3 linked regions of the Homo sapiens genome follow. The protein of the gene in region 1 binds, or shares a complex with, the protein of each later gene. Each region holds a gene or a part of one and is shown in the gene's direction. Other genes may lie near its edges.

Region 1 (3,649 bases):
GTGTTTCTAGTGTAATATACAATTTTCTCTCTTTAAAAAAAATTTCTAGATTTGATCCATATGGAAAGAATAAGTTCTCCACTTGTAGAATTTGTAAAAGTTCTGTGCACCAACCAGGTTCTCATTACTGCCAGGGCTGTGCCTACAAAAAAGGTAAGTTTCTTTTAATACCGTTTTCTATTCATAAAACCGACTTCATTTGCTGCTAATTTGGTTAACAGAAAAGATGTAGCCTGTCATAAATTCTGTTAGCCAAACACTCTCTTTATCCTAAGGCAAAATAGAACCTAAAACCTGTTTATAATTAAAATTATATATATATATATATTTTTTTTTTCTTTTCTTTTCTTTCCTGATGCTGTTAAATTATGTTTTAAGCTTCAGGATTGACTTAAACCAAACAGTTGGTATTATGATTTGATTGATCACATATCTTCTTTTGTTTCAGGCATCTGTGCGATGTGTGGAAAAAAGGTTTTGGATACCAAAAACTACAAGCAAACATCTGTCTAGATGTATTGATGGAATTTCTGGCTTTCTAAATGATTTTACTTTCTGCCTTGAATTTTCAAGGCATAGATGTCAACTTACAGAATAACATGTTTTAAGATAATTAAGTTTAAACCAGAGAATTTGATTGTTACTCATTTTGCTCTCATGTTCTAAACAGCAACAGTGTAACTAGTCTTTTGTTGTAAATGGTTATTTTCCTTATAAGAATTTTAAGAACTAAGTGGCAAATTCCATGAAAATATTTCTCAGTTCTGTATGCACTTTTATTTAACATTATTCATATAATTCTCCCCCCACCACTTTATTTATAGATACTGCAAAAGTGAGAAGGAGATAATAGATACTTTGCTCTGAATTTGGCATCCAGAGTTAACATTTCTCCCCTCACTCCCTTGCTGGTGTCATAGTTATTAGAATCAGCAGCCTCTTAACTAATTGCGGTTTCATAGGATATATAAATGTTTCAAGCCATTATTGCTGAATGGTTCTTTAGTTATTAACCTAGACCCAAATCAAAGACCAGTTGGATTTATGATATTTTTTATTTGTTCTTGCAGCCAAAGTGCCAGTTTCTTTAATATGTGACCAAGAACACAAGGAGCATCCATATGGCCAAATAAATACACTGAATTTTAGAAAAACATATTACTTTGAATTCAAATTGTCATGAAAACCAGAACAGTGTTTGTCCATGTTGCATGTAATGAAAATAAATCCCTGCTCTGAGAAAAGCTCTTTGAAGCAAAAACCAAACTTTTTTTTTTTTTTTTTTACCTCCTGTCTTGCCCCCTAAAAGAAATAAATAGAGCAAACATCTTGACTCTCCCTTTTTAAAATTTGTTTGTTTTTTTTTTTTTTTTTTGGATACAAGAGCTCACTCTGTTGCCCAGGGTGGAGTGCAGAGGTATCATCAGGCTCTCTGCAGCCTCCATCTGCTGGGCTCAAGCAATTCTTCCCCCTCAGCCTCCTAAGTAGCTGGGGACTACAGGCGTGTGCCACTGTGCTCAGCTAGTTTTTATTTTTAGTAGAGATGAGGACTCACTATGTTGCCCAAGCTGTTCTCGAACTTCTGATCTCAAGCAATCCTCTGGCCTCAGCCTTCCGAAGTGCTGGGATACAGGTGTGAGCCACAGAACTTGGCCTCTCTCTTTTTTTTTTTTTTTTTTTTTTTTTTTTAACACTACAGGTTTCAAATGAATACTTTTCTTATGTTGCCTTCAGAGGTTCAGGACTTCTGCTTTTAAAACCTGCAGCCTACCGTGGGAAACCAAAAAAGCATTCCCTATTTCCAACTGCAGTATGTATAAATACATATCACTACAAAATGTATAGAAAGTGTGATGAGATACATGAATGGCATTTTTATTGGTCATAACATTTTGATGAAAAGCATTTAAAGTTTTAACTTTATAAGGCTTTTCAAAATGTGTTTTTCTGAGATACATTGTTATTTATTCATATCCAGAAAAATTACAAGGATAATACAGAATATAATAAATAATTTATCTGAGAGCAGGAAGTATCCTCTCATGCTTAATCAGTTTGGGGTTTTTAATTATAACACAGGAAACTCATAACAGGACCTGGTCAGAGAGCATCCCAGATCCATTAAAGATTGGATTCATTGACTTGGAGAAAAGTACATTTCTCAGGGATCAGCTAGAATCTGGACTTGCCTAACTCACATTTCATTTTTTTTGTTGTTGTTGTTGTTTTTATAATTTCAACTTTTATTTTAGATGTAGGGGTACATGTGCAGGTGAGTTATATGGGTATATTTTGTGATGCTGAGGTTTGGGGTACAAATGATCCTGTCACCCAGGTAGTGAGCATAGAGTCCAACAGGTGGTTTTTCACCCCTTCCCTCCCCTCTTCCCTCCAGTAGTCCCCTATGTCTGTTCTCATTTTTATGTCCATGTGTACCCATTGCTTAGTTCCCACTGATAAGTGAGAACATGCGGTCTTTGGTTTTCTGTTCCTGTGTATATTCACTATAATGACCTCCAGCTGCATCCATGTTGCTGCAAAAGACATGATTTTCATTCTTTTTTATGGCTGCATAGTATTCTGTGGTGTATATGTACCAATTTTCTTTATCCAGTCCACTATTAATGAGCATCTAGGTTGATTCTGTGTCTTTGCTGTTGTGAATAGTGCTGTGATGAATATGTGAGTGTATGTGTCTTTTTGGTAGAACAATTTATTTTCATTTGGATTTATATCCAGTCATGGGATTGCTGGTTCAAATGGTAGTTCTGTTTTAACTTCTTTGAGAAATCTCCAAACTGCTTTCACAGTGGCTGAACTAATTTGCATTTCCATCAGTGTAGGCGCATTCTACACTGCACTGGCTTCTACAGTGTTGAAGCATTCCGTTTTTCCCACAGCCTCACCAGCATCTGTTATTTTTTTGACTTTTTGATAATAGCCATTCTGACTGGTGTGAGATTGTAACTCATTGTGGTTTTGATTTGCATTTATCTGATTAGTAATGTTGAGCATTTTTTCATGTTTGTTAACCGCTTGTATGTTGTCTTTTGAGAAGTGTCTGTTCAAGTCTTTTGGCATTTTTTTAATGGGTTTTTGTTTGTGTGTGTGTATTTTTGTTTTTGTTTTTGTTTTGAGATGGAGTTTCACTGTTGTCACCCAGGCTAGAGTGCAATGGCACCATCTCAGCTCACTGCAACCTCCACCTCCCGGGTTCAAGCGATTCTCCTGCCCCAGCCTCCTGAGTTGCTGGGATTACAGGTGCCTGCCACCAAGCGTGGCTAATTTTGGTACTTTTAGTAGAGACAGGGTTTCACCATGTTGGCCAGCCTGGTCTCGAATTCCTGACCTCAGGTGATCCACCCATCTCAGCCTCCCAAAGTGCTGGGATTACAGGAGTGAGCCACCACACCTGGCCACGAGTTACTTGGTTTTCGTTTTCTGAATTGTTTTAGTTCCTTATAGATTTTGGACATTAGACCTTTTTCAGATGCACAGTTTGTGAATATTCTCTCCCATTCTGTAGGTTGTCTGTTTACTGTATTGATAGTTCCTTTTGCGGTGCAGAAGCTCTTTAGTTTGATTAGGTTCCACTTGTCAATTTTTGTTTTTGTTGCAATTGCTTTTGAGGACTTAGCCGTAAGTTCTT
Region 2 (3,649 bases), about 50 Mb from region 1:
AAGCTGCCCCAGCCAAGCGTGGTGGCTCACGCCTGTAATCCCAGCACTTTGGGAGGCCGAGGCGGGCAGATCTCCGGAGATCAGGAGTTCGAGACCAGCCTGGCCAACATGGTGAAACCCTGTCTCTACTAAAAATACAGAAATTAGCTGGGCGTGGTGGTGTGCGCCTGTAATCCCAGCTACTTGGAAGGCTGAGGCAGGAGAATCGCTTGAACCCGGGAGGCGGAGGTTGCAGTGAGCCAAGTTCGCACCACTGCACTCCAGCCTGGGCAACAAGAGCGAGACTTCATCTCAAAAGAAAAAAAAAAAAGAAAAAGCTGCCCCATCGCATCGCATAGAGGCTGCTATGGGATTAGAACGTAGCTTGAGATCTGCAGGTCAACAGGTCTGTTTGGCATCTCAGGTTTTCCTCACATAAGTGAAAGATGCCTGGTATGGCCTAGTGTTGTTCTGCCTCCCTCCTCTGCCCGCCAGGTATACATGGACTGGTACGAGAAGTTCCAGGACAGGCTCAACAAGAAGGTGGTACTCCTGACAGGCGAGACCAGCACAGACCTGAAGCTGCTGGGCAAAGGGAACATTATCATCAGCACCCCTGAGAAGTGGGACATACTTTCCCGGCGATGGAAGCAGCGCAAGAACGTGCAGAACATCAACCTCTTCGTGGTGGATGAGGTCCACCTTATCGGGGGCGAGAATGGGGTATGGCGTGACCTTGCAGCACAGATGAGGGACTGGGACTGACCAAGTGGCCTTGGCATTGGACCTAATGTTTGGGTCTGAGGACGGAGGCTCGGGGCTTCTCCCCAGAGGATTCTACCTGCTGCCCTATTCCAAAGGGACAATGTTAACTTTTTTGGTAGTACTTTAGGAAAACAGTATTGTTTAGTGGAGGTTGGCTGCCGTGGAGGAGGTAGAACCAAACACATGAGAGCTCCTAGTTAGAAGGAAGAATGAGGTCATTTTGAGGCTGTTGGGCTGTTCACAAAGGGGACCTCCAGGCAGAGGATGGGAGCCTTGGCCTGCAGTGACCCTCCCTCCCTCCCTCTTTCCAGCCTGTCTTAGAAGTGATCTGCTCCCGAATGCGCTACATCTCCTCCCAGATTGAGCGGCCCATTCGCATTGTGGCACTCAGCTCTTCGCTCTCCAATGCCAAGGATGTGGCCCACTGGCTGGGCTGCAGTGCCACCTCCACCTTCAACTTCCATCCCAATGTGCGTCCCGTCCCCTTGGAGCTGCACATCCAGGTAGGACCCACTCTCCTCATCCGTCTGTGGGGTGTCACATAGATCCTGAGTGACCCAGGTCTGATAACCTTGGTGTCTTTTCTTCTCCCCGGTCGCCAGGGCTTCAACATCAGCCATACACAAACCCGCCTGCTCTCCATGGCCAAGCCTGTGTACCATGCTATCACCAAGCACTCGCCCAAGAAGCCTGTCATTGTCTTTGTGCCGTCTCGCAAGCAGACCCGCCTCACTGCCATTGACATCCTCACCACCTGTGCAGCAGACATCCAACGGCAGAGGTAGGTGGGGCCTGGCGTCTGGGGGTTGGGGTTAGGTTAAGTGAGGCTGGCCTACTCCAAGGGTGTCCTCTTTATGAGGGTGGGGTTAGCCCATGTTGCTTGGGGCCAGGTTCTGCACAGCTGGCAAAGTGTCTGCCAGGAATTGAACTACTCTGAGCTGAGCCAGTGCCTGTACCGCACAGGTTCTTGCACTGCACCGAGAAGGATCTGATTCCGTACCTGGAGAAGCTAAGTGACAGCACGCTCAAGGAAACGCTGCTAAATGGGGTGGGCTACCTGCATGAGGGGCTCAGCCCCATGGAGCGACGCCTGGTGGAGCAGCTCTTCAGCTCAGGTAAGTCAGGCCACGGAAGGGGAGCATAGCAAGGGTATCACCAAGTGGTGGTGTTAAACTTGAGGGGTGCGGGTGGCAGTGTTTTCTCTACAGCATACCAGAGATTTTCAAAATACTGTTTAGGACTCTTGGCTGTTAACTCATTTGATCCTCCCAAGAACCTCGTGAGGCAGGTGAGACAAACACTATCCCTACTTGCCAGGTGAGAAAACAGGCAGACACATCAGGTTGTGCTATTTCAGAACCTGGTTTTCTAGAGTCCAGGACCTTTGGCCACCAGACCGCTGATTCTCCGTGGATACCAGACTCCCCAAGTGTATTAGTCCGTTCTTGTATTGCTATAAAGAAATACCTGATACTGGGTCATTTATAAAGAAAGGAGGTTTAATTGACTCAGTTCTGCAGGCTGTACATGAAACATGGTGTTATCTGCTTCTGGGAAGGCCTCAGGGAAGGCAAAGGGGAAGCAGGCATCTTATATGGCAGGAGTCAGGACCGAGAGAGTGAGTGGGGAGGTGCTACACACTTTTGAACAACCAGATCTCGTGAGAACTCATTCACTAGACAGTACCAAGGGTGGGTGGTGCTAAACCATTCATGAGAACTCTGCCTCCATTAGCCAGTCATCTCCCACCAGGCCCTTCCTCCAACACTGGAGACTACAGGTCGACGAGATTTGGTGGAGACACAGATCCAAACCGTCTCACCAAGATAGTTAGACTTTAGAGATTAGCACAGAGGAGAGCTCTGATTCTCCCTTGAGCTCACTCTTGCTGGCCACTGTCTCTTGTTGCCCTGTGGCATTTTGTGCAAAGATTTACGTTTTAATACTGTTTATTGGAGCCTCATTGGAGATTCTTCTGCCAGAATCACTTCCTGTCACTCTTTGGCCCTTGAATCTGCCTGTTTGGGGCATGCTTAGAGTGATCTCTGTTTTGCTGGCATGGCTGAGCCAGCCCGTGGCTGCATGAGTGTTAGCACTTTCTGGTCAGAGGAGCAGTCCATCAGCTGTAGTTTTGCCTTGGTGTTCCTGGGCTTTGGGTTCTGTTCTATGATGACTTGTTTTCTCCTGGATAGTCCCAGAGCAAGGCACCAGCAGCGTGGAGCTACCTCATAGCAATGTGTTAGCTCTCATTCATGTTAGACCTTGTTCCTAGCCAGCCTTGCTGTGAGTTCTGAAACATAGCACAGGGTAAGCCACGGCCTGCCCATGAGGCAGTGAGCCTACTTCACCCGGAGACCCCTGCCCTCAGCCTTCCTCTCCCCTCTACTGCTCAGGGGCTATCCAGGTGGTGGTGGCTTCTCGGAGTCTCTGCTGGGGCATGAACGTGGCTGCCCACCTGGTAATCATCATGGATACCCAGTACTACAATGGCAAGATCCACGCGTGAGTACAACTGGTGCTCTGTGTTAGCACAGACCTCCTTCCTAAAATGAATGTGAATCTGCAGATACACAGAAAGTAAGCTAGGATGAAGAAAAGGTGTTAGGGAAGTTAACAGCTGAGATGCCACCAGAGCCAAGTGTTTGAGAGTTTTGTGTCTCAATACCTAGGCTCACATTTGCTTTTTAGTCATTGTGCTTCCTTATTCAGCAGCTGGGAGAGGTAGGAAATTAGAGCCAGGAGGAATGTTTGACGTTACGTCATTAATCTCAGACATCTTGTAGATTAGGAAAAGTGACTTGGTCGAGGTCATACACCTATATAGTGACAAGTAAGAAGCTAGAGGAGTGCCGAGCGCAGTGGCTCATGCCTGTAATCCCAGCACTTTGGGAGGCTGAGGCGGGCG
Region 3 (3,649 bases), on another chromosome or scaffold:
GTGGCAGCCCTGGCCTTGGACTCATTAGGTCCCTGAAGGGGCAGTGGAGCCTTAGAGAAAGCTGGGTCCTAGAACTAAGGCTTCTGGGAAGGTCGGGACTAAAGATTGGAACATGGGCCCTTGACTGGAAGAGGATCTCAAGAAGCAAGAGTTGTGGCAGATTGGCGTGTTGGGTATTGGTGCTGGTATGAACTTGTTTTCTTTTTTAAGCAGGGAGATCATTCGCTGAAGGAACATGAGCTCTTGGAGCAGCAGAAGCGGGTAATACCCCTCCCCCTAACCTTTGACCTCGTGGTCCAGTCAGTTGGCTGTCATTTATAGTGCTTAGAGTGCACCATTCAAGTTTTCCCTGGAGGCTACTTTGTTCTCAACTAAGTTCTAGTATCTTCCAAAGCTTTCAATTTTTCTTGAAGTTCAGGAATTGACAAACTATGACCTGTGGCCTGCATGTGTATGGCCTATGAGCTAAAAATAACTTTAAAATTTTTTAAGGGTTATAAGAAAACCCAAACCAAAAATATGTACCAGAGTCTGTACAGCAACCCATAAAGCCTAAAATATTTACCTTCTGACCTATTATAAAAAGAGCCTGCTGACCTCTGCTCGCCTTACATGACATCATTCTAGATAGGACTCTGGGTAATTGAGTTATTTGTATTGGATTTAGACAGAATAGGACTGTAAGTCTGGGAATGTTATATAAGATGTTTGGCCCCAGAGGTGCATTGCATCAGTCATTACCCAGTGGGTTACTCAGGAGTATTAAAAAGTAAGTGTTAAAAAGCAACAAGTATGAGCTGGGTGCCGTGGCTCACACCTGTAATCCTAGCACTTTGGGAGGCTGAGGTGGGTGGATCGCTTGAGCTCAGGAGTTCGAGACCAGCCTGGCCAACATAATGAAACCCTGTCTCTCAGAAATACAAAAATTAGCCAGGTGTGGCGGCGCATGCCTGTAGTCCCAGCTACTTGGGAGGCTGAGGTGGGAGGATGGCTTGAGCTGGGGAGGCCGAGGTTGCAGTGAGCTGAGATCATGCCACTGTACTCCAGCCTAGGCAACAGAGCCAGACTCTGTCTCAAAAAAAAAAAAAAAAAAAAAAGCCACAAGTCTGGACCTGTGGGTAAAGTACTGTCTTTGCCCAGATTGTGCTGGATCTTGAGGGGTGGATATAAGAAAAGAGCTCAAAAGTTTCTTCTGTATAATTTAATCTTTTGGGGAAGAAAACTCTCTGAAAAGTAGAAGGCACTGTTTGGCTCAATATGAAATTCTCTGCTAGGAACCAGAAGTTTCCTGGGGTTTTCCTTGGTGTTATTTCTAGGGATTTTCCGTTGTGATGAGAGGGCTCCTCCGTTTGGATTAGTAGCCTGGAAGTGTGGGGGTGGAGGGGATGTCAGCACCCAAGTGGTTCGTGATTGTTCTCCTTGGGCCCATTACCCGGCTGAAAGAATGCATTTGCCAGGGGCTGCCTGCCAAATGCGTTTTCAGGCAGTATCTACTCCCACTTCCCTCCCGTAGGCAGCTGTGTTACTGGAGCAGGAACGACAGCAGGAGATTGCCAAGATGGGCACCCCAGTCCCTCGGCCCCCACAAGACATGGGCCAGATTGGTGTGCGCACTCCTCTGGGTCCTCGAGGTGAGACCCTGGAACCGAGGGGAAGGGCAAGGAAGGTGATTTAGACATTTTTAAAAAGACTTTTAAGGTATCTATCACATTTAAAAAGGGCATATATAGTAAATATATAGTTTAATGGTTTTTTACACACTGAACACACCTGTACAACCAGCACCTGGACCATGATCCAAAACATTACCAGCATTCCAAAAGCCACGCCACGTGCCCTCCTCCCCTGCAGGTTTACCATCACCCTTTCAGCAAGAGAGGTAATTTTTTACGTGAGTGTTTTGCCTCTTCTGACATTGGATTTCTTTTTCCCGTCTCTTAGTAGCTGCTCCAGTGGGCCCAGTGGGCCCCACTCCTACAGTTTTGCCCATGGGAGCCCCTGTTCCCCGGCCTCGTGGTCCCCCACCGCCCCCTGGAGATGAGAACAGAGAGGTGAGACTGATGATTTATTCCTAGGGATAAGAGAGTGGTAGTTTAGGATGGGACTATTTTTGGATTTTTAGAGAAAGGTTCTGTGAGAAGATGGGGGGACTTAAATTCCTGGGGGTAGTGGGGAGCCCTTCTTATTTAAACTAAGGGTATGGCAGAGGGACTGGGGAGACATTACTGAGGCAGAGTCTTGGGGTCCCTCTGAGGAACACTAAACCCCACTGAGCCCAGTTGGTGTTGCCCACTCTCTGCTGCTTACATCACCTGGGCAGCAGCCTTTCTAGTCCAAGAGGTGGAAGTTGGTGGAAAAAGGGCACTGTGGGCTGGGTGCGGTGGCTCACACCTGTAATCCCAGCACTTTGGGAGGCCGAGGCGGGCGGATCACCTGAGGTCAGGAGTTCTAGACCAGCCTCAACATGGAGAAACCCCATCTCTACTAAAAATACAAAATTGGCCAGGTGTGGTGGTGCATGCCTGTAATCCCAGCTACTCGGGAGGCTGAGGCAGGAGAATTGCTTGAACCTGGGAGGCGGAGGTTGTGGTGGGCCGAGATCGCGCCATTGCACTCCAGCCTGGGCAACAAGAGCAAAACTCCGTCTCAAAAAAAAAAAAAAGAAAGAAAGAAAAAAAAAAGAAAAAGGGCACTGTGATTTGCCTTCTCTGACTGGGTGTCTCTGGCAGATGGATGACCCCTCTGTGGGCCCCAAGATCCCCCAGGCTTTGGAGAAGATCCTGCAGCTGAAGGAGAGCCGCCAGGAAGAGATGAATTCTCAGCAGGGTGAGTGCCAGGCGTTCTGATGCTGTAGCCACAGAACCTGGAGAGGCTGAGCTGAGTCCTCATCCCTCTGTCCCTTTCCCTGGCTCTTGGTAAAGGCAGGTTACTGTGAACGAGTGCAGGGCAGTGGCACCGTGAAGACTCATCACCACCTTCTTCCTTACAGAGGAAGAGGAAATGGAAACAGATGCTCGCTCGTCCCTGGGCCAGTCAGCGTCAGAGACTGAGGAGGACACAGTGTCCGTATCTAAAAAGGAGGTAGGGATTGGAGCTGAGTGTGGAAGGAAAGCCAGGAGATGGGACTTGGGTACGGAAATAACACAATTTGTAAGTGTTCAGTAAGTAATAGCTTCTATTTTGTGCCAATTTCCGCCCTCAGCATCTTATAGATATTTTTCATTTAATTGCTTTGAGTTCCAAGTACTATACGTGCCTACATTTTACAGCTGAAAAAGCAGAGGTTCTGAGACGCACAGTAATTTACCCAAAGGCATACAGCTTGTGAGTGGCAGAACTTTGGAGTCTGACTCCAAGGCCCCTTCGCAGCTACTTCATGAGATGGCCTCCTTGGGAAAAGCCTGACTGTTGAACTGTGGGGGAGAATGGGGGAGGAGTTTAGGGGTTGGGGTGCTGGCACAGTGCTTGGATTCCCTGACCCAGCTGGTTTTCCTCCTCTTGACAGAAAAACCGGAAGCGTAGGAACCGAAAGAAGAAGAAAAAGCCCCAGCGGGTGCGAGGGGTGTCCTCTGAGAGCTCTGGGGACCGGGAGAAAGACTCAACCCGGTCCCGTGGCTCTGATTCCCCAGCAGCTGATGTTGAGATTGAG

Evidence for each region.
Region 2: CRIPT (region 1) and SNRNP200 share a complex: the UniProt entries of both Homo sapiens proteins name them as parts of the minor spliceosome.
Region 3: CRIPT (region 1) and SF3B2 share a complex: the UniProt entries of both Homo sapiens proteins name them as parts of the minor spliceosome.

The regions. Positions count from the first base shown.
Region 1 is NC_000002.12:46,623,715-46,627,363, forward strand, and holds part of CRIPT (cysteine-rich PDZ-binding protein), read left to right. Parts: intron 1-49; coding exon 50-153; intron 154-448; coding exon 449-513; 3' UTR 514-3,649. UniProt on the Homo sapiens protein: As a component of the minor spliceosome, involved in the splicing of U12-type introns in pre-mRNAs. Involved in the cytoskeletal anchoring of DLG4 in excitatory synapses.
Region 2 is NC_000002.12:96,281,411-96,285,059, reverse strand, and holds part of SNRNP200 (U5 small nuclear ribonucleoprotein 200 kDa helicase), read left to right. Parts: intron 1-474; coding exon 475-702; intron 703-1,055; coding exon 1,056-1,247; intron 1,248-1,346; coding exon 1,347-1,525; intron 1,526-1,707; coding exon 1,708-1,859; intron 1,860-3,137; coding exon 3,138-3,246; intron 3,247-3,649. UniProt on the Homo sapiens protein: Catalyzes the ATP-dependent unwinding of U4/U6 RNA duplices, an essential step in the assembly of a catalytically active spliceosome. Plays a role in pre-mRNA splicing as a core component of precatalytic, catalytic and postcatalytic spliceosomal complexes.
Region 3 is NC_000011.10:66,055,325-66,058,973, forward strand, and holds part of SF3B2 (splicing factor 3B subunit 2), read left to right. Parts: intron 1-210; coding exon 211-261; intron 262-1,513; coding exon 1,514-1,631; intron 1,632-1,941; coding exon 1,942-2,051; intron 2,052-2,729; coding exon 2,730-2,826; intron 2,827-2,989; coding exon 2,990-3,081; intron 3,082-3,505; coding exon 3,506-3,649. UniProt on the Homo sapiens protein: Component of the 17S U2 SnRNP complex of the spliceosome, a large ribonucleoprotein complex that removes introns from transcribed pre-mRNAs.